Linked DNA regions of Homo sapiens. The protein of the gene in region 2 purifies or fractionates together with the protein of the main gene of each other region. This does not show direct contact. Each region holds a gene or a part of one and is shown on either strand. Other genes may lie near its edges.

The links.
Region 1: the proteins of TMUB1 (region 2) and AMFR purify together in Homo sapiens (affinity purification with mass spectrometry; 3 studies listed by BioGRID and IntAct, with this or other methods). This does not show direct contact.
Region 3: the proteins of TMUB1 (region 2) and RNF185 purify together in Homo sapiens (affinity purification with mass spectrometry; 5 studies listed by BioGRID and IntAct, with this or other methods). This does not show direct contact.

Annotation. Positions count from the first base shown.
Region 1 is NC_000016.10:56,360,952-56,366,545, reverse strand, and holds the end of AMFR (E3 ubiquitin-protein ligase AMFR), read left to right. Parts: intron 1-2,440; coding exon 2,441-2,625; intron 2,626-3,489; coding exon 3,490-3,637; 3' UTR 3,638-5,094; downstream 5,095-5,594. UniProt on the Homo sapiens protein: E3 ubiquitin-protein ligase that mediates the polyubiquitination of lysine and cysteine residues on target proteins, such as CD3D, CYP3A4, CFTR, INSIG1, SOAT2/ACAT2 and APOB for proteasomal degradation.
Region 2 is NC_000007.14:151,080,531-151,088,538, forward strand, and holds TMUB1 (transmembrane and ubiquitin-like domain-containing protein 1), read right to left. Parts: upstream 2,964-8,008; 5' UTR 2,904-2,963; intron 2,490-2,903; exon of another isoform or gene 2,234-2,489; intron 2,064-2,233; 5' UTR 2,034-2,063; coding exon 1,645-2,033; intron 1,371-1,644; coding exon 1,019-1,370; 3' UTR 555-1,018; downstream 1-554. Other genes in the region: FASTK (fas-activated serine/threonine kinase), read right to left, coding at 155-236. UniProt on the Homo sapiens protein: Involved in sterol-regulated ubiquitination and degradation of HMG-CoA reductase HMGCR. Involved in positive regulation of AMPA-selective glutamate receptor GRIA2 recycling to the cell surface.
Region 3 is NC_000022.11:31,191,182-31,198,181, reverse strand, and holds part of RNF185 (E3 ubiquitin-protein ligase RNF185), read right to left. Parts: intron 5,499-7,000; coding exon 5,480-5,498; intron 2,714-5,479; coding exon 2,601-2,713; intron 1,247-2,600; coding exon 1,192-1,246; exon of another isoform or gene 1,025-1,191; intron 1-1,024. UniProt on the Homo sapiens protein: E3 ubiquitin-protein ligase that regulates selective mitochondrial autophagy by mediating 'Lys-63'-linked polyubiquitination of BNIP1.

The sequences.
Region 1 (5,594 bases), on a different chromosome or scaffold from region 2:
TACAAAGAGGAAACAGTAAACACTACTAGGCCTTCTTCAAATCTGTTGCTGGGTTAAGATTTTCATATCCACCTATGTAATTGGATTATGCATCATTTGTGAAATGGTGCATGGCTTCTAAGGGGTCCATGTCTACATTTCCAGTTTTTTTTTTTTTTTTTTTTTTTTGAGACGGAGTCTCGCTCTGTCACCCAGGCTGGAGTGCAGTGGTGCGATCTCGGCTCACTGCAAGCTCCGCCTCCCGGGTTCACGCCATTCTCCTGCCTCAGCCTCCCGAGTAGCTGGGACTACAGGCGCCCACCACCACGCCTGGCTAATTTTTTGTATTTTTAGTAGAGGCGGGGTTTCGCTGTGTTAGCCAGGATGGTCTCGATCTCCTGACCTCATGATCCGCCCGCCTCTGCCTCCCAAAGTGCTGGGATTACAGGCGTGAGCCACCGCGCCCGGCCTCCAGTTTTTGAATAGCTGGCGCAGCTGAGATATGGATGCTGTGGGCTTGGGGGCATCTGTGGGTACAGCATATTCAGTCCCTGTCTTGATTTTCCACTGCTGCTTCTAGAGTTAGCATGAAGAGTTCTGGATTTTATATATATATATGTATATATAATGGAGGAAAGTATGTATTTCACAGGGAACCTTGCTGTGCAACATTTTTGGTCATTTGTGAAGAAATACAAAGTCCTTGAATAACAATTAGTTAACAGAAACCTCAGTGTAGCCCAGTAAGCTTGTCAGCTCCACTCTCCCTCTGTTCTAATCTCTGCCCTGCCCCGCTCAGGCTGGTATTAGTCAGGCATGCAGCTGCACAGAGCAGGGGTTGCGGTGGGCGGCTGTTTTCTTTCTAACATCTCGCCTCTTCACTCACCATTTTTTCTAACCTGCTCTAGGGTCAGGCTTAGAGGAGAGGGATAGAATAGGACAGTGAGACTCCAGCGTGTGTGTGCGTGTGTGTGTATGTACCTACATGTTGTGCCAACTACGTGTGTCTGTGTGTGTGTGTGTACATGTTATGCCAACTATCTCCCTGTCCCCATCTGGCCCCAGAAACTCCTCCTTTGACCCTGGGCTGGCTATTGATGACCACTCCCACCTTCATGGGGGTCCTGTTACCTCTCCAAGTGGTCCTTTTGGGCACAGTTGTTTTCAACAACCTTAGGTTGGTTCCCTCCTGCAGGAGCCCTATCCAAGCTCCAGGACACACACAGTGTTGTCTGGAGTCAGTGGAAGGTGAACGTGCTCCCGTCACAGCTCCCCTGGCCCTGTATTTTATTGGCTCCTGCCAGTTTCTTTCTGTAGATTTCTCAAGTGTATGCAGCCACCAGTTCCCCCGTCCTTTGACTCTCGGGGATACGAATGGTTCTCTTGAAGTTCCCTCTCGAGCTTAGCTGAAGGCAGGAAAAAGTGAGGGTAGGTCCAGCAGGAACTCTGAAGTAAAACAGCCTGCCTCTCAGCTGCACCCACCTCCATTCTGTCACAGCCTAGAAGCGGGCAATGGGCTGACCCTGGCCAGCGCAGGTCTGCATCTGGGAGCATGAGCAGCGCAGATGGTCAGGCACCTGCTAGGACCTGGGGGTGCCTGGGCATTGTCGTGGACTTTGGAGCTTCAACCAAAGCCAAGGAACCATATAATCCATCCTGTGTCTTTTCAAAAGATCCTTAGGGCTGGGCACAGTGGCTCATGCCTGTAGTCCCAGCACTTTGGGAGGCTGAGGTGGGTAGATTGCTTGAGTCCAGTAGTTTGAGACCAGCCTGGGCAACAAAGCAAAACCCTGTCTCTACAAAAAATACAAAAATTAGCCAGATGTGGTGGCACGAGCCTGTGGTCACAGCTACTTGGGAGGCTAAGTTGGGAGGATCCCCTGAGCCTGGGGAGGTTGAGGCTGTGGTGAGCAGAGATTGTGCCACTGCACTCCAGCCTGGGTGACAGAGTGAGACCCTGTCTGTAAATAAATAAATAAATAGATGCCTAGCAGTTTTCCTTTTTACCTCTGTTTTCAGAGTCAATTGAGGATATAAAATTTGTGCAGAAGATTGGATAAGACTGGTTTAAATGTTTGAGCAATTAGTAGAAGTGAACAGAAAATTCCCAGGATGTAAACTCACGGTTGTCGTGTTGGTAGCGTATTCTAAGAGTGCAGCTTGAAGGTGCTTACGTTTTTCATGCTGGTAATCATTTACTTACCCTCTGATGCCGAACATTCTGTGTGAGTCAGGTCCTGTTCTTAGTACTACTCAAGCCATAGGCAGCAGGCCTGCCCTCAGGGAAGCTGCTGCTCCATTATCCGTAGCTTGTGGTTCCTAGTTTCTGCCTCCCTGCTTGGCAGCAGCCTTCTCTTTGCGTCCAGAACAGCCGTGTCTGGGGTGCCCTGTAGGTGAGGAACCTGCTTAGGAGGGAGGCCTGTGCTCACAGCTGCCTCCTTGCTTCCTGCCCCGTGTCCAGACCGAGCGTGTGCCACTGGACCTCAGTCCTCGCCTGGAGGAGACGCTGGACTTCGGCGAGGTGGAAGTGGAGCCCAGTGAGGTGGAAGACTTCGAGGCTCGTGGGAGCCGCTTCTCCAAGTCTGCTGATGAGAGACAGCGCATGCTGGTGCAGCGTAAGGACGAACTCCTCCAGCAAGCTCGCAAGTGAGTCGCTTCTCCAGACCACCTGGCATAATCCAGATCAAAAACTAGTGGCTGAAGGCCGTTGTCAGGCCGTCTTCTCTTTTTAAACAGATGCCAACAGTGAAACGGCATTACATGCCACCCCAAAACTCAGATTTCAAGCCTCTCTTGAAAAAACCAGAGCATCTGGTAACACTGGGCCCCACTGGTCTACCTCTGATGCTGGTACTGTCAGTCATCTCCCATGGACCCCTTTGGCCACGCTTGCCGAGAGAGCACTTGTGTGCTAACCTGATCTAAGCCCTTTATATGAATTACTTTAACAGCTCTAAGAGGGAGCACTGTTAACCCATTCAGCTGACATACAGCTGAAGAAATGGAGGCTGGAGAGGTTAGCACTGGCCTGGCCCTGGCGTCTGTCTCCCAGGTCCTCCCTGTTGACCACTCTGCCTTTCAGCTGAGCATTGTACACACACTCAGCGCATCTGTGCGTCACACACCCATGGTTGGTGGCAGCTACAGCAGGTGTGTCCTGTGGATAGAGGGGGTTTTGTTCCAGCTCTTAAGGACAGGGCCAGCACTGTGTTCCTCAAGTGGGTTTGGGCCCTGGCAGACCCTGTGATTGTGGGAGTTCTGTGCTGTGTCTGTGGGTGGAGGGGATGGGCAGGAAGAGACAGCAGGGAACAGCACTGAAGGGTTCCTCCCTGGTGCAGAGAGAATTTGCGCCCATCTGTTGGGGGCTGGATGTCTTGGTCATTGGGTGGTGCTGAGTGACAGCTTCATGAAGGTGCCTGGACATGGGGAGATGTGAAATCAACCTTCTGGCTGTGTTCCACAGCTCCCCATCTCTCCTATGAGAGAGAAAAAGTCTTCTGTTTTTTCTAGACGTTTCTTGAACAAAAGTTCTGAAGATGATGCGGCCTCAGAGAGCTTCCTCCCCTCGGAAGGTGCGTCCTCTGACCCCGTGACCCTGCGTCGAAGGATGCTGGCTGCCGCCGCGGAACGGAGGCTTCAGAAGCAGCAGACCTCCTAGCGCTCCCTTGCCTTCCTCAGCTGCCTCCTGCGCCCTGTGCCCGACTGACTGGAGGAGGCCTGTCCCAATTCTGCCCGCTCCATGGAAAAGCGGGCTTGACTGCATTGCCGCTGTATAAAGCATGTGGTCTTATAGTGTTTGGACAGCTGATAAATTTAATCCTTCTTTGTAATACTTTCTATGTGACATTTCTCTTCCCCTTAGAAACACTGCAAATTTTAACTGTAGGTATGATCTCTTCTGGTGTTGACTGGACTGCTTGGGGTGGGGGACGATCAGGAGGAAGTGAGCAGTCGCCTGCCTGCAGCAGGCAGCTTCTACTCCTGCCTCATGCGTACGTCCCACAAATGCAGGTGTCCTGAGCACCACACCCAGTGGGAAGAGTGTGGGGGAGGCGCACAGTGTGAGCCCGCCCCCACGTCGTGGGGTAACATCTGTTATCAAACTGCTGTCGTTGTTGTGGAAGCATGTAGACTGTGCCAGAGGCCAGACCCACGGGCTCATGCACCCCTGAGCCAGCAGGGCATCTTGGAAAAGGAACTCTTGGTTCGATACCTGGAGCAGAGGAGGGGAAAGTCCAGGGCTATAGGGTGTGATGAAGTCACCCCTTTCTGTCCCACTACATCTGGGACTGACTTTCCGAGCCTCCAGTCCAAAGCCGGCTTGATTTCCGTGAACTCTGGTGCTCCTGCATCTCATGAGTGTGCCCCATGGGTCCCCTCCCCTCTCAGCATTTCCTTGTCCCGTCTGGACCTGGGGAGTGGTTAGGCAGCAAGCTTTGGTTTATGGTTTTCATTCATTGGTGAAGTAAATTAGGCAGTGCTAAAGCCTGTGGGTTTGGTCCTTGAACAAGATGTGGGCCTTGCAAGATGGGAGAGTAAACCTTGAAGGGCTTTATTAAAGAAATAAAAAAGAACTTTTGTATCTTTTATCCTGGGAGCACTGCGTTTTCCTAGCTGTGTTATTCCTGGTTTAATTCAGCAGAGAAGGTAAGGTGTGAACCTACCTGCCTTGGAGAGGGCCCAGGTCCCAAATCTCTTCAAATTCTTCACATGTTTAACTTTAAGGATTTGAACCATGAAGTCATAGGTTACAGACCTCAGTTTTATGCCCCATTGGATTACTTTTTTTTTTTTTTTTTTTTTTTTTTTTTTTACTCTTTGAAAGCTTTGTTTTGTGGTAGTCCTTTTGGGAAGAATCCAGTATTATCCACAATTATTGGCAAAGTTTAAATGTATTTTACATAACGGAAAGTTTTTAGAATGTTGAAAAGTAATTGAAAAAGGTGATAGGTAAATTTTTAGGCAAAGATAATTTATTTCAATAAATCTTTCAAAAGCCTTACCTTGAAATGCTGTTAGTAAATTTCTGTGATTTTTTTTTTTAATTTGTTTTGCTGAGAGCATAGCTATTTGTTTTTATTGTAAAACAATAATAATAATAAAAAGCAAACTCTATTGGTGTGTTGTGTGTGGCTGGAAGCTAAGGCATGTTTTTGTGTGGCTGGAAGCTAAGGCATCTTTTTCCAGAGGTGCCAACGTTAAACCCCATTTTGATTTGGATTTTGTGTATACTATTTTGGTTGGAGGGTTTTTTCCCATGTTTTTGAATTGGGAACTTTTGTTTTTCCTAGTAGTGTATTTGGGGAAGGCAGAACTACATTTTTCTTCCCCTTGTATTTATATCTTTTTTTTTTTCAGGTAAGTGTGTAGCGAAAGATTATTTTACTGTCCTCGAATTACATTATACTTCACACGTTGCACCCATTGTAGGTGCCACTAATTCCACATGTTCACAGGTTTCTGATGTGTGAAAAGAGAAAATTACTTGGATCAATTTTAGAGGGTCTTGACACATTACAAAACAGCCATATCACAGTGTTTAGAGCAGGAGCTTATTAAGTAGCTTAAAATGATGCAAGAAGTGAAGTTCTCAGTCCGCCCTTCCATTTTACACC
Region 2 (8,008 bases):
GCCCGAGTGCACCGCTTTGCGATGGCGCGGAGTCGGCGAAGTCGGGGGCCCCAACACCCACCCCGGCCCAGGGACGCCAGGAGACCGTGGCCGCTGCCGCTAACACCAGCTCCCGCTGCCCTCCCGCAGCCCTCCCCGCAGGCGCCACCCCTACATGACTCCCCGGGCCCTGCGCAGGTCGCTCCCTCAGTCGGTCTCGGGGCCCGGGGGCCGGGTTCCCCCCGCGGCCTCCTCATCGGCTAGCCACCGAGTCCGCCATCTTCCCAGCAGCCCCTAGATAGCCGCCCGGACGCCAATCCCGAAGCAGCTATCGGTCTTCGGAGACGTGGCTCCCGGCAGGCACTGCGAGCCAGGGAGCCGCGAGCCCCGCCCGCGGGAAGTGCGCGCCCGGCGCCGAGGGCGGGGCCACGGAGGCCGGCGCCAAAGCCAGAGCAGAACGCTGGGGAGAAGGGAAGGCGGAGGGCCAGACCCCAGGCGCAGTCCGTGCCCTTCTCTCCCAAGGGGCGAGGACTCCCCGCCCGCCAGCCCGCACACACTCAGACACACTGCAAGAGTGAAAACTTCACAGTTACTTTAATCTGCACGGGTTCCGGGGAACTCCTCTGCCCCTCCCCGCTCCCCTTCACCAGCCTCCCACCGACCTGGCGTCCCCAACTCAGCCCAAGGAGCTGTCAGGGATTGGAGGCGGCTGGGTCCTCCGGCAGAACACTAAGACGGGCCCCCGGGGCGGCCCGGCTCTGCCCGGGGCCGAGGCAGCGACAGCAGATGCCCGACCCCGAGGAGCCCACTCCCAGTGCGGGCTGAGGGTCAGCAGCCCCGGGAGGTGGCCCCGAGCCCCGGCGGTCGCAGGGCGGGGCCTCCGCCAGTCCCGGGAGTCCTCTGCGGCGCAGGGCTGGGCTCCAGGGCGGCGGGAAGAGGCAGGCCGGAGAGGCGGGCCTGGGCAGGCAGCAGCTCCCGCCGCGGCGCGGGGAGCAAGGTCCGGAGGGGCCGGCGACGCTGCCAAGCGCCCGCGGAGGCACTACGGGCGGTACATGGCAAAGGCCAGGAGACTGAGGAGCAGGGTGAAGCCGGCCAGGCCCAGAGTGGCGGTCAGGGGAAAGAAGGGCCGGTACTGGATCTGGCAGTACCAGAGCAGCAGCAACAGCAGGAGCAGCAGGGGCAGCAGCAGGCTGCCGATTTCCAGCCCGGAGGGGCCGGGCTCGGACCCCGGCGGGCAGGGGGGATTTGGGGGACCGACTCTCGTGGACACGTGGCAGTGGAGAACGCAGTTGGGAGGGAGGTGAAGGCTGCCCAGGGTCTGGGTGTCGTCGCCTAGCAGCTGCCCTTGGTAGATGAGTCGCACCTGCTGTTCCCGGCCGGGAAACTGGGTCCTGAGGAGAGAGGGACCTGGGTAAGAGAGCAGGCCTCAGGCAATCCTAGTCCCTGGCCCCGGAACAGCACTCCCACCCTCCCCCTGCCCTCCACAACACACCGGCCCTGGCCTGGGAGGGGCCGTCTGCCAGGGGAACAAGTACAGTTGTGATCTGGGGCGCTCAGCGCCTCCAGTATAAAGGAGGGCTGGGTCTTAGGTGTCTCTGGGGGCCTTCTGCGACCACTCTCCCAACCCCTGTCTTTAGCATTGCTCCTGCCTCTTGACCTACTTACCTTTTCAAGGAGCCAATGGTGTCGTGGGGCCAGGCCCTGGCCACCTGCTCTGAATCATTGAGGAATTTCAGCCGTAGCACGAGGGGCTCCTGCGGGGAGTCCGGGGCTGGCGGTGTTGCTGTGAACCCCGTGCTGGGCTCTGGCTGTGCAGCTTGACCTCTGTGTCTCAGGCTGGGGGTCTCTGCCCCTGGGGCCTCCCCTCTCATGCTGTCGGTAGCTGCCATGGCTGCGCTGGGCTGGGATGGCGTTGGGGTCCCTGACGGCTGGGGCAGTGGGTCCCCGCCCTCAGCGGTGTGCGTTGAGACCCAGGCAAGGGCCAGCACCAGAAGGCAGGCAAGCACCGAGAAAAGGACGGTCACCTCATCACCCACCCCTTCAATCAGGGTCATGGCGCCTGCCTTGCCCGCCGCGCTACCGAGCTGGAGAGGCACAAAGAGCCCGTGAGGCCCGGGCCCCCTGGCCAGGAGCCCTGGAACCTCCACAGGGTCCTGCCCTCACCCCACCGCGACGCTCCCACCGTCCTCAGCCTCCGTCCCCTCACCCACCCCAGGGTACCGGCTTCTCTGCCTCCCAGTCGCCCCAAACTTGCCTCCGGGTGCCCCTTCCCATCGCCGAATCCCAAGTCCTAACTTTCTGTCATCTGAGCTCGAGGTCTTCAACCAGCTCCCAACTCACCCAAACCCTATCCCAAGGTAAGGGCCTAAGCAACGCCTCTCCTAAACTTCACCCCAACCAAACTTCACCCCCAAGCGTATCTATTCTCCTGCCCACTTCACCCCAGTGTGTCTACTCCTTCACCGACTTCACCCCAGGCTCATCTACTCCGCTGCTAAAGTTTCTAAGAGGTGGGGGTAGAGCCTCTGTGCCCCCACCCCCGCCCCCCGCGTTACGGTTCACCTAAACCCCACCCGCGGCACAGGACTGCTTCCCAGGCTTCCCCCACAGCAAACGTCAAACTCCGCCCCTGGGCAATCTGGAGCCACCGAGCGTCACCACCCACCCAGCTCGGCCCCCTCCAGGTCCCCTCAACCCCACTCCGCGGAGGACTAACTCCGCGCCTCCTCTGGAAGTCTCTCCAAGCCCCCCGGGCTGCCTGACCCCAGATCCCGCCCGGAATCCGAGACTTCACGTTCCCCACCCCCACCTCTCATCACCCCTCCCACCTTCCCGCCCCCCGAAGCCGCAGGAGGGCACGGCGATCCCGGCCCGACCGGGGCCCTGGGCGGCGGGGTGGGCGCGGTCACGGCGCGGGGACTCACCGCCCGGCTCCCCCAGCTCCATCGCGGCCCCTCGGGCACTTCCGGGCGGGAGGCGCGGAGGTCGCAGGCACCTGAAGCACCCCTCCTTCCCCGCCGCCGCGGCCCGGGGCATTGTGGAACTTGTAGTCCGGCGCCGCGCTGTCCCCGCCCTCCGCCCTGCGGACCCACGTGTGGGGCTCCACCCGCGGTTCTCTGCGCCTGCAGATCGCGAAGGGGCTGGCGGGGGCGGTTTTGGGGGTTGTGCTACCCCCTAGAGGTTTGGGCGGCAGCAGCGTCCGCCCCCTCCCCTGCCAACAGCCAGGGCATCTATCACACCAGACACCGACGTCAGCTGGAGCACGTCAGAGTACCCGTGTTCGTGATGCAGTGTGGAAGGCTCTGAGGAACTCAGGTGGCCCCTACTGTTATGTCAGAGTGGACGCCAGAAGGCACTTTGGCCACCAAAATTAATTCTTCAGCCCAGAGCCCAATATCCATGGGCTGCCCCACCAGGCTGGCTAGGGATACCCATCCTCAGGGCTGCCCCTTTCCTTGGTCCCCTCCTCCACCTTCGGGACTCCACAGCCCCTTCAGGGCTGTGGAAGAAGCATAGACCTTGGAACCTGGCAGAAATCCTGATCCCTTATCTTGTGCTTCTCAGCTATATGACCTTGGGTGGGTTATTGAATCTCTCTGAACATTAATTTCTTCCTCTCTAAAACACACCTCGTAAGTCAATCATAAGGAAGAAATTAGATGTTTTATTAAAAAGTGTAAAAACTAAGGTACATGTCACACAGTAGCTATTCGCTCACCTCCACCCAAACCTGGTCTCAGGAGTCGGGTCTTTGGTGTGTTACTGTGTGGATGGCATTGAATCCCAGGCCTGTGGATATCTGGATTTTTCCCTCTGGGCTCCTGTAGCCACAGAGATCTCACATCCTGGTTTTTACAGGCCAGTCTTGATTTAAAATAATCTATCCTAGTCTTCCCATGGTTCTTGCCTACTGTGGGAGCAAGTGGCCCAAATATTGCCTTAGGAATGTCAGTCTAGATTGATACCATACAGAACTAACCTACCTCTAGTTCCATCCCTCCTGTTCATTCATTTATTCTACTAACATATTTTTTAAAAGATGTACTATGGCCAGGCGCAGTGGCTCACGCCTGTAATCCTGGCACTTTGGGAGCCAAGGCAGGCGGATCACTGAGTTCGAGACCAGCCTGGCCAACATGGTAAAACCCTGTCTCTACAAAAAAAAATACAAAAATTAGCTGGGCGTGGTGGCGGGCGCCTGTAATCCCAGCTACTCGGGAGGCTGAGGCAGGAGAATCATTTGAATGCGGGAGGTGGAGGTTGCAGTGAGCTGAGATCGAGTCACTGCACTCCAGCCTGGGTGACAGAGTGAGACTCCGTCTCAAAAAAAATTACACACACACACACACACACACACACACACACACACACACACACTATATCCCAGGCATTGTGCAAGATACTGGGAATAAAATGGTGAATCAGACCCTCTTCCTGCCCTCATGTGGCTCCATATACTAGTAGAAGAGCTAGACGTGTGAACAGCCCAACAGTGCTATAACACGTGTGTGCTAGTTGCTGGGGCAACACATTTGAGGAGCTCTTTGCTCTTAGTGTCTCTCTTGGGAGGTATACCTGGTGCTACTTCCTGCTGTCAATTCTAATTAAGCACCTAAAAGAGATGTTGGATGTTACTTTTAGAATTATACAACATCAGAACTAGGTTTTATGTTCAACCACTATATTTCGCAGATGAAACCCAGAGAGGGCACAAGATATCCTTAAGCTTATGCAGGGAGATAGAAACACAGGTTCCTCAGGAGCTTAGGAGACCCTGTGTGTTGATTAGCTTGCACCAGGTGCTTTGGAAGGTACAAGGAACTCGGGAATAGTGACTGGGTTGGTTCTGGGGCTGAGTTGTGTGGGTAATCAAACAGTGGACAGCTTCATGCTGGGAAAAGATCCAGCTTGGCCAGGGAAGTGGAAGTGTGCGTAAGAAGGACGATGTGTGTCACTGATGCCCTAGGATATCTGGGGGTAGCAGATACCCTGCAACATCTCTGGCAGATTTATTGGCTGCGGCCTCTGCAAATGTCACCTCTTGTAGGTTTTAGGAAACGTGTGTGTGTTGGTGGGGGGGAGGGGGCTAACAGAACTGCAGCCCACTTTGGCAATGGGACTGCAGAGGAACTGGGACATTTCAGGGAGCTCCCTGGCCCTAGAGGGAGTGAAAGGACAGGATGGACAAGGGGTGAGGACAAGAAAAATTGAGAGCCACGTGGGCTTTGGTTGGTCTCTCCAATGGGATGAGTAGGGGAGAAAGGCATATACTATTTCATCCCTCCCTCTTCTTCCTCTATGTACCAATGGGGTCGGGTAGCATTTAGCTAATCTCCCAAGTCCGGCAGGGGGAGGGTCTTTTAGGAGAGCACTGCTGCAGCCGGCAGTGGAGAGCCTGGGCAGGGAGACAGGGAGAAAACTCCGGCAGCAGGGTGGTCTCTAGGGCTGACCTCGGAGCCTGGGGACAGGGGAGCCTATGCCGCACTGAAGGCGGGACGCTGTAAGCGAGGAGCAGCTGGGCCTGGGCGGACTCCTCGGCCAATCAGCCTCGGTCAGCAGCACCCTCAGGCGCAGGGCACTGTTTGGGCATTGCCTAGAGATCCGACACCCCGCCCAGATCAGCGCAGGGAGGCGAAAGCGACAGCCGGGCGCGGGAGGAGACCAGGGCAGCTGTCCCCTCCGCGAGGGTGGCCCTCGAGGCAATGCGGGTGGGGGCTGGTGAGGAGGCGGAAGGGCCGAGGCTGAGTGGGAGGGGCCGGGGCGCCAGGGCTGGAGCGCGCGGCTCGGGGGTGGAGGCTGCAGAGCCAGCGAGCGAGCGAGGGGCGGGGGCGCCCGGGCCGGCGCGCAGGAGGGGCGGGGGCGGCGGGGAGGGGGGCTCGGGCTGCGTGTGCCGGAGCCGGCGGGGGCGGCGGTGCGTGCGCATGACGCGGGGGGAGGGCCTGGGCCGCGCGCTCCCGGTCCCGTTGTTGTTGCCGCTGGAGGCTGCTCCGAGGCAGCGGGATCACGGCGCTGGGAAGCGCTCGGCAGCGGCGGCCACAGCGTGCGCGGCGGCGCCTCCTGGCCTCGGCCTCCGGCCCCCGGCCCCCGGCTCCATGCGCTAGCCCCGCGCCGCCAGCCCAGTAGTCCCGGCCCCGCCAGCCCCGCGCTCCCGCTCGCCGCTGCCGCCGCCGCCGCCGCCGCCGCCTCCGCCGCGCCGCCCCGGGCCCGCCTCGGGCCCCACGGCTCCGAAGCCATGAACTTCCAGGCGGGCGGGGGGCAGAGCCCGCAGCAGCAGCAGAGCCTGGCGGCTCCGGGGGGCGGCGGCGCTGCCGCGCAGCAGCTCGTCTGCGGCGGGCAGTTCGGCGGCGCGGGGCCCGGGGCCGGGGGCGGCGGCGGCCCCTCGCAGCAGCTGGCCGGCGGGCCCCCCCAGCAGTTCGCGCTCTCCAACTCCGCGGCCATCCGGGCCGAGATCCAGCGCTTCGAGTCCGTGCATCCCAATATCTACGCCATCTACGACCTGATCGAGCGCATCGAGGATTTGGCGCTGCAGAACCAGATCCGGGAGCACGTCATCTCCATCGAGGGTGAGCGGAGCCGGGGGCTGCGGGAGCCGGGGCGCAGTGGCCTCTCCGGCGCCGGCCGAGGGCTCCACAGGCCGTGCCTGGCCATGCTCTCCCTGTCGGGGGTCCTTGCGCGCTTGAGGACCAGGCCACGAGGTTTGCCGATCTGTGTTGCAGAACCGGCGGGCAGCTTCGCCATATCTCGTTCGGGGACACTTTGGGGTTGGGGGTTTTCTGCTGACTGTGTTCCAGGGCGCGAAGGTGGTGTCGCTTGGGGGGGCCGGGACCAGATCTGTCCAGGCCTGGCCGGGGAAGGTGGGCGCGGCAGAGGGCTTCAGCTGCGGGGAGGTGGGGTCGTGACCGGGGAGGCTTCTTAGCCGCTGCCCGGGCCCTGCTCCGCAGTGGGGCGGGGGATCGGAGCCTCGCGTTAGTGGATGGCAGCCTTCCCGGGCCCAGCGCCCGCAGGCCCGGAGGGTGGCGCTCGCCGCGGCGCCCTCTCCCGACGCACACCCCCTACGCCGCGGCGGCCAAGCGGGAGCGGGCCGGGCCTGGCGCTGGGCTGAGGCTCAGCGACCGCGTGGGAGGCGCCGGCAGGTCCATCCGCGCTTTGGCCGGGTCATGAGCCTGACGGGGATCCGCGGCTCCTCGGTCTGGAGGCAGCTGCTGGGCAGCCGGGTGCTGACCGACCGCCAGGGACACCGCACCCGGAGTCGGGGACCGGAAACCCCCGGCCACTGCGCTGCCTAGCGCTTTTTTCTCTGGGCCCTTAGGCCCTGGACTTTCGACCGCTGAGGGCACAGGAAGTGGTGGCACGCTGCTGGCAGATGCCTCGCAAGCCCTGGTGTGGTGGGTGCTGGAGGCACCCGCAGGCACCCCGGTGGCATGGTGACCTTCGAGCGGGCACGGACAGATGGGCCTCACCCTGGGCCATCTGCTTCCTCCCCCAGCTCTGTTTGAAAGGGGACGCCCACCGGCAGGTGGTGGGTTTGGCCTCAGTGGAAATGCAGTGAGAGCCAAGGCCTTTTGCGATAACATGGAGTTATGGGCAGGGGCCTGTCCCTGACTTGGGCCTTAAGGTTAGGGCCCCACTCCCAGCTTCATCTGCTTGCCTGAGGTTCTGGGGGATAGTGCACCTGAACACCTCCCTTTCTGCTTTCAGAGGTCCCCATAGCCGGGGAAGAAGTACTGGGTCTGGGGGGACCCCATGTGGTGCTGGGTTCTATCTTTTGTTGTGACATGCCAGTCTGACTTCCTTCTGCCTTTTCCCAACCCGTTCTTATTTCTTTCCTCTCAAGGCTGAGTTCTCTGTGAACTAATTAGGTGACAGAAAAAACTCATTAACGTGGATCTGAGTAAATGGCCTGAATCACCGCTGTGGCTGGGGACTAGGAGATGGCATTTGTGCGAGCCCTGGGCCCCAAAGACAGGAGATGACCAATTTTTCCTCTTAGATCTGAAGAGGGTGGAGGCGGGAGAGACATCGTTGCTGC
Region 3 (7,000 bases), on a different chromosome or scaffold from region 2:
CCAAAATTAAATTTTAAAGCAAACAGAATGGTGATGGCTACATAAAAATACATATGCACAGCCTACAGATGAAGAGAACATGAGGATATGAGAATATACTTGTTCTGGGCTCTTGGCAATGGTGGGTAAATATTTTGCTTTTAAAATTTCTTTAACATTTTAACAGAATTTTTTTAAGAGTAACATTTGATGTAAATATGCAAAAAATGTAAATGTTTTTGTTCCTAGCCACTAGACCACTAGAGACAAATGTGCAATTTTTTTTTAGCCAGTAATCTTACTTCTAAGAATTTATCCTAAGCCAGGTACAGTGGTTCACGCCTGTAATCCTAACACTTTGGGAGGCTGAGGTGGGAGGATTGCTTGAGCCCAGGAGTTAGAGACCAGCCTGGGCAACATAGTGAGACCTTGTTTCTACCCAAACAAAACAAAACAAAAAAAAGAAAGACAAAAAAAAACTCAAAAAACTAGCTGGGCATGGTGCCGTGCACCTGTGGTCCCAGCTACATGGGAGGCTGAGGTAGACTGAGCCCAGGAGGTCGAGGCTACAGTGAACTGTGATCACACCACTGCACTCCAGCCTGGGCTACAGAGTGAGACCCTGTCTTATCCTAATAAAATAATAATGAACATGCTCACAAATTTATCTGTAAGTTCATCAGGATTTTTTTTAACTTGGAAAAAGAAAGCCGCTAATGTCTAACAAAGGATTGAATTATGTTAAATCCACACAACTAAATGCTAAACAGCTAGTTAGTAAAATATTGCTGGCAATGTAAAATCTCAAGATAATACTAAAAGACTCCCACTCACACAAAGAAGGTACTAAGTATCTGTAGAACAAATGAAATTTTAAGAGAGGGTTACAAAACAGGAGCCACATATTGTAAAAAACAAAAAACAAAAACTGTAAAAAGTATACACACATCTGTAAAATACACGCACAGATTTGTAAAATTTGTGTGTATATATAATTATAGAAAAATGGAAAAGAAAATAGAACCAAAATGTTTCCAGTGGTTACCTCTGGATTGGTGTGGTTATAAGTGATTTTTTTCCCCCTCTTTTCCTTTCTGTATTTTACAAGTTTTCCTTTACTTTTATAATCAAGGAGAAAAATTGTAAGGCTAAGAAGGAAACTTCTAAAGCCATCAGCTCATTTGTAGAAGCTTCTCCTAGAATGTTCCTCACCCCTCTATTCTCCGGCTCTGGCCTCTGTCCTTGAGGACGAGGAGGGGTCTTCTCTCTGAAACAGAAATGGTGTAAAATAAGTCTATTACAAATTGCTTTGAGTTGCTCCCTGTGAGGACCTGGAGCTCTTTACCAACAGGGTCAGGGCCATAGCCTCTTTCTTGTCCAGGACATGAACTTATGCCAGATTAATTCTCCAAATACGAACTCTTCATTCTACCTGCAACTGTTCTTCCCACGTGTATAGAGAACCAGGGAGAAAATCAACTCGTTATGAGATATTCACCAGATTGCACTACAGCCTACTCCTCTTACAGAGATCCTGACTCAGATCGGTTAGGAATCATGGCCAGATGCCTTCCCTGGGCCTGTTACAGATAACAGAAATCCCAAATCCATACTGGAACAGAGGGTGGGTTGTCAGCAGTAAGGGCTGAGGTTCATGGTTTCTCTGACCTTCCCCTATTAACTTCAGCTCTATCTCCTACTATTCTTGGGCAAATACCCAATGCTATTATTTTTGAGTCTCACCCCCTCAAATCACTCAACCCATGAATACTCAATTGAGGGCTTAGTTATACAATAAGCATTATGCAGGATGCTGTAATACTGATGACAGACCCAACCCTTGAAGTGTTCATGGTTTCAAGGGGGATAAAGCCAGTCATATGACACTGTGGTGGGAACTGGGTGAGAGCAACTAATGTGAAGAAGACAGACCACTTCAAGGAAGAGGGAACTTTAGGGCTGCTCATAAGAGATGAGTAGAAGTTAGAGGAGCAGGTGGGGGTAGAGGGGTAGCTTGAGCAGGACTGGGGAGGGAAGAAGGCAGAAGAGAGAGCAAATACACAGGCTGATAAATGTGAAAGAGCAAGTCCCTTTAAGAGAAAGTCTAATATGTCGGGTACACAGCATATGCTAGGGTAGCTGGATAAAGGTAAGAGATTCTTCTGGAGAGCTTGGGGATGCCAGACCATGAAGGGCTCTCAATACTTGTGTTTGTTGAATGCTGGACCCATGCACATCTCCATTTCTAGAAATCCCAAACTCCACAAAGTCACCCAGATCCTGTTTCCCCTCCCGCCATGCTTTATACATCACTGATGCAGCAACCCTGCTCCCTGGAGCCTCTCCTGCTACATATCCTGCTTCCCAGGTTGCAGAAATGCTCTTTCACAGGGCTCTGCACACTTGTGATTGTGATGTCTGTTCACTGCTGGGTCCTAGCAAGTGGCAACTTGGATCCCCTCTCTTCCCTCCCCTCCTAGCTGACTCTCATCTGGATGAGACTGCTTCGAAACCAAGAGATCATCTAGTACTAAGTAAAGGGTGGGGTTAGGGGATGCTGAATGGGAGTGAATTCACATCCAAGGGGAGAAGTGGTTGGGAGAGGCATCCTGAGTCCTCACCTGGGGTCCTGTTGCCCAGTGCTGCCCCTTCCATAGAGGGGGATGACCTTGTCTCGGCTGATGCCAGCTTTGCAAACAGGACACACCTGTCTGTTAGGTCTGGTCTCCAACCACTGCAAACAGGAGAGAAAAATGCATGTGGATGGCCCAAGACCCACCAGAGTGATCAGCCAGAGCCACCAGAACAACACAGGCCAGAGGCCTCAAACTGGGAAACACCAGCATGAGCAGGGAACATCTCAAGGAACCTGACTCCCATTCCTTCTCCTACCATTCAGCAAATACCTACCAGTGGTAAAATCAAAATTGCCTTTAAATATCATCATAATTGGCCGGGTGCGGTGCTCATGCCTGTAATCCCAGCGCTTTGGGAGGCGGAGGTGGGTGGATCACCTGAGGTCAGGAGTTCAAGAGAAGCCTGGCCAACAAGGTGAAACCCCGTCTCTACTAAAAATACAAAAATTAGCCAGACATGGTGGCGCATGCCTGTAGTTCCAGCTACTCGGGAGGCTGAGGGAGGAGAATCGCTTGAACCCGGGAGGCGGAGGTTGCAGTGAGCCGAGATTGCACCACTGCATTCCAGCCTGGGCAACAGAGCAAGACTCTGTCTCAAAAAAAAGAAAAAAAATCATCACAATTAGGCTTCTTCATGCTTTGTTTCTCTCTAGGGCCTCCTAGCAACACAGGGGGAGGGAAACTGCAAGTCTGGGGCTGTCAAGTCTGACATGCCCAGCCTCAATTTAGGCTGCTGGTGTAAGTACAGCAAACTTTAAATCCCCACCTTCCCAGTAGGAGCAACTGTATTTTCCTGTCAGTCATATTCTTCTTTCTGTGATTTCTCATTTTTTTTTCCCCAGACAGAGTCTTGCTCTGTCACCCAGGCTGGAGTGTAGTGGCATGATCTCAGGTCACTGCAACCCCTGCCTCCTGGGTTCAAGCAATTCTCCTGTCTCAGCCTTCCAAGTAGCTGGGATTACAGGCGCCCACCACTGCGCCCAGCTAATTTTTGTATTTTTAGTAGAGACAGGGTTTCACCATGTTGGCCAGGCTGGTCTCAAACTCCTGACCTCGTGATCTTCCTCCCTTGGTCTGCCAAAGTGCTGGGATCACAGGCATGAGCCACCGCGCCCGGCCAATTTCTCATTTTTATAGCATTTTCCCAACAACTGTGTATCCCAGGCATCAGAATCAGGAGATAAGCTGATCATTTTCTGGTGACTTACCACATGCTAAAGGATAGGTTTTGCTCATTATCTAAATTTGCTTAATGCTTTTTGTGTACTTTCATTGATTTTTTGCATTCACCTATTTCTTTCAATATAAAAAAAATCCCGTTTTGGGTTTCTCAGGCCCTTTCACTGGTTACATTAAAATTTTTTGTTTAGGCCAGGCGCGGTGGCTCACGCTTGTAATCCCAGCACTTTGGGAAGCTGAGGCGGGTGGATCACCTGAGGTCAGCAGTTCAAGACCAGCGTGGGGAACATGGTGAAACTCCGTTGTCTCTACTAAAAAGACAAAAAAACTAGCCGGGTGTGGTGGTGTGCACCTGTAATCCCAGCTACCCAGGAGGCTGAGGCACAAGAATCGCTTGAACCCGGGAGGCGGAGGTTCCAGTGAGCCGAGATCTCACCATTGCACTCTAGCCTGGGCGACAGAATGAGACTGTCTCAAAAAAAAAAAAAAATTAATTTTCTTAAAAAAACAAGTGATAAAAAATGTTTTTGGTTTGTTTTTGTTTGTTTTTTGCTTGTTTTTGATTTTTTTTTCGGTTTTTTGGTTTTTTTTCTCGAAACAGAGTCTCACTATGTCACCCAGGCTGGAGTGCAGTGGTGCAATCTCAGCTCACTGCAACCTCTGCCTCCCAGATTCAAGCGATTCTCGTGCCTCAGCCTCCCTAGTAGCTCGGACTATAGGCGTGCACCACCACGCCCAGCTAATTTTTATATTTTTTGTAGAGACGGGGTTTTGCCATATTGGCCAGGCTGTTCTCAAACTCCTTGCCTCAAGTGATCCACCTGCCTTGGCCTCCCTACGTGCTGGAATTATAGGTGTGAGCCACCACACCCGGCCAAAATGTGTTTTTATAGACATTCTATAAACATGAATCTAGGACTTCAGGGCTGAGGAGATGGCAGCACTGAATGATTTTATTTACTACTCTTACTGTTCATAGCTCCAAAACTTAATGTGTTATGTGTTCTTCATAAACTCATAGTCAATATGTACTACCAGGTCCCGCTGGGGACAGAATGTGCAGCCCTGTTCCCACCTTCTTTCTCCCATCCAGATTCTGAAGCTTTAGCAGTCTGGAACTTCTGTCCTCCCCCACATTCCCAGGCCACCTACGAGTGTGGTACTCTACTGCTGACGACCAGGGAGACTTTCAGCAGGCTGTGATTATTCACAGCCACTTGTGAATGCCAGGCCCAGCTCTGTCTCACCAAGTAGGTGCTAAAGCTAGGAAAATAGACTTTTCTCTCCTCACAAAAGCTCTTTGTTGACACCAAAAAAATTTTCCCCTTCCTAATATTTTCATAACCTTTAAGGGCTGGGGGACTGTTGATATGATAGGAGGCACTGTTTTAATAGAAGCAGAATCTCAAAAATAAAAAGGACCTAACTAACATACTATCAATCCAATCCAATTTATAAATGAGTAACTGAGATCCAAAAAGGCCCTCTGTGGCAGAATTAGGACCATCCCGATTTCATCAAGTGTCTGTCAGTGGACAGGTATGTAAAGAAGGCTGTGGGGGTAAGTAAGCAAATGAGCCCACAAGCAGGGCAGATTGCAGCTTCTGAAAGCAGTCTCCTGAGACTAGGGCTCTCTTGTGCAACCAGAGCTGATGAAAGACAAAGTAAAATGAAATGCATCTTACCTGATGTAAACACGGCCAACTGCCAGAGTCCCCAGGGCAACCAGTCATCAAGGAGAAGGAGAAAAGGGGAAAGGAAGAAAAATGTTTTCATTAGCAGAAACACTTGATGGGTGGAGTGGTAGTAGCAGAATGAGAAAACAGGAGTAAACTATGGAGCACTGCATGCCCATTGAGGTTCTGTAGGGATTACTGGTATCGGAAATTAAAAAAAAACTGGGGTAAAAATCACAGAAAATAAATAACGCAATGGAGATAAGACCCCAGCCTCTGCCCCTGAGATCTCAGTATATGTGAAATCCCCAGGGCTCAGACCACACAGACCCAGCTTCTCTACAAATCACCCTGTGAGAGGTTACAACATCTGAAGGAATCCAATAAAAGCTAAGGACACCCTGTGCAAAAAATTGATGGGGGCATTCACATACACATGTACTACACACTATTTTACACTCAATTTCAGTGGGTTCATAGTCTCCTCGGGCTCACAAGGGATGTGTGGACTCTCAGGTAGTCCAGATCCAGTTTAACAAAATCTTCAGGCTGTCCTCATCCTTGAGAACTCTCCTAGCAGGAAGCAGCTTAAAAGTTCAGGTCTACTCTAAAAGCATCTTTAAGTAATAGAAAGGATGGGGATGCTACTTGACAGAAAGGGTTACCTTCAGCTTAGAGAGCTGCTGTCCAATCTCTCTCCATTTTCAAATGAGGAAACCAAAGCTCAGAAACATAAAATGAACTGCATCAGGATTAAAAAAAAAAGTCTCCTGACTTCTAGTTCATTGCCCTTTCTATAATCTAACACCACATACAAAAAAAAAATGATATCTACAGAATTGAAAGAAAAGTATTCAACTCCACTTTTTTTTTTTTTTTTTTTTGAGACGAAGTTTTGTTCTTGTTGCCCAAGCTGGAGTGCAGCTCACTCAGCTCACTGCAACCTCCACCTCCCAGGTTCAAGCGATTCTCCTGTCTCAGCCTCCTGAGTAGCTGGGATTATAGGTGTGTGCCACCACGCCCAGCTAATTTTTTGTATTTTTAGCAGAAACGGGGTTTCACCGTGTTAGTCAGGCTGGTCTCAAACTCCTGACCTCAGGTGATCCGCCCACCTTGGCCTCCCAAAGTGCTGGGATTAAAGGTGTGAGCCACCGTGTCTGGCCCACATTTTTAATTTCTTTCTCTCGTTTATTTAGTTAACACATATCTACTGTGTACCTACTATGTAGGCCAGGACAGTGGAAAATGCAGGCATGGCTTCTGTACCTCACATACCAAGTATCTTTAGCTGAGTACACTTTGAACTCAAAGGATAGTTCCTTTTCCAATTCCTGAACCACAGTTTAGCTTCACAAACCAAATACACAATCTTCCTGGCCATAACATCTGACTCCAACATTAATCTTGCAATGTCATTCTAAACTGAGTGGAGAATAACCCCAAATCATGGCAGATCTCCACTGGCAAGTTCCCTTAAAGACTCTAGGGGAGAAGTGGAGGTGAATGAATGACCCTCAGGGGAAAGTCAGG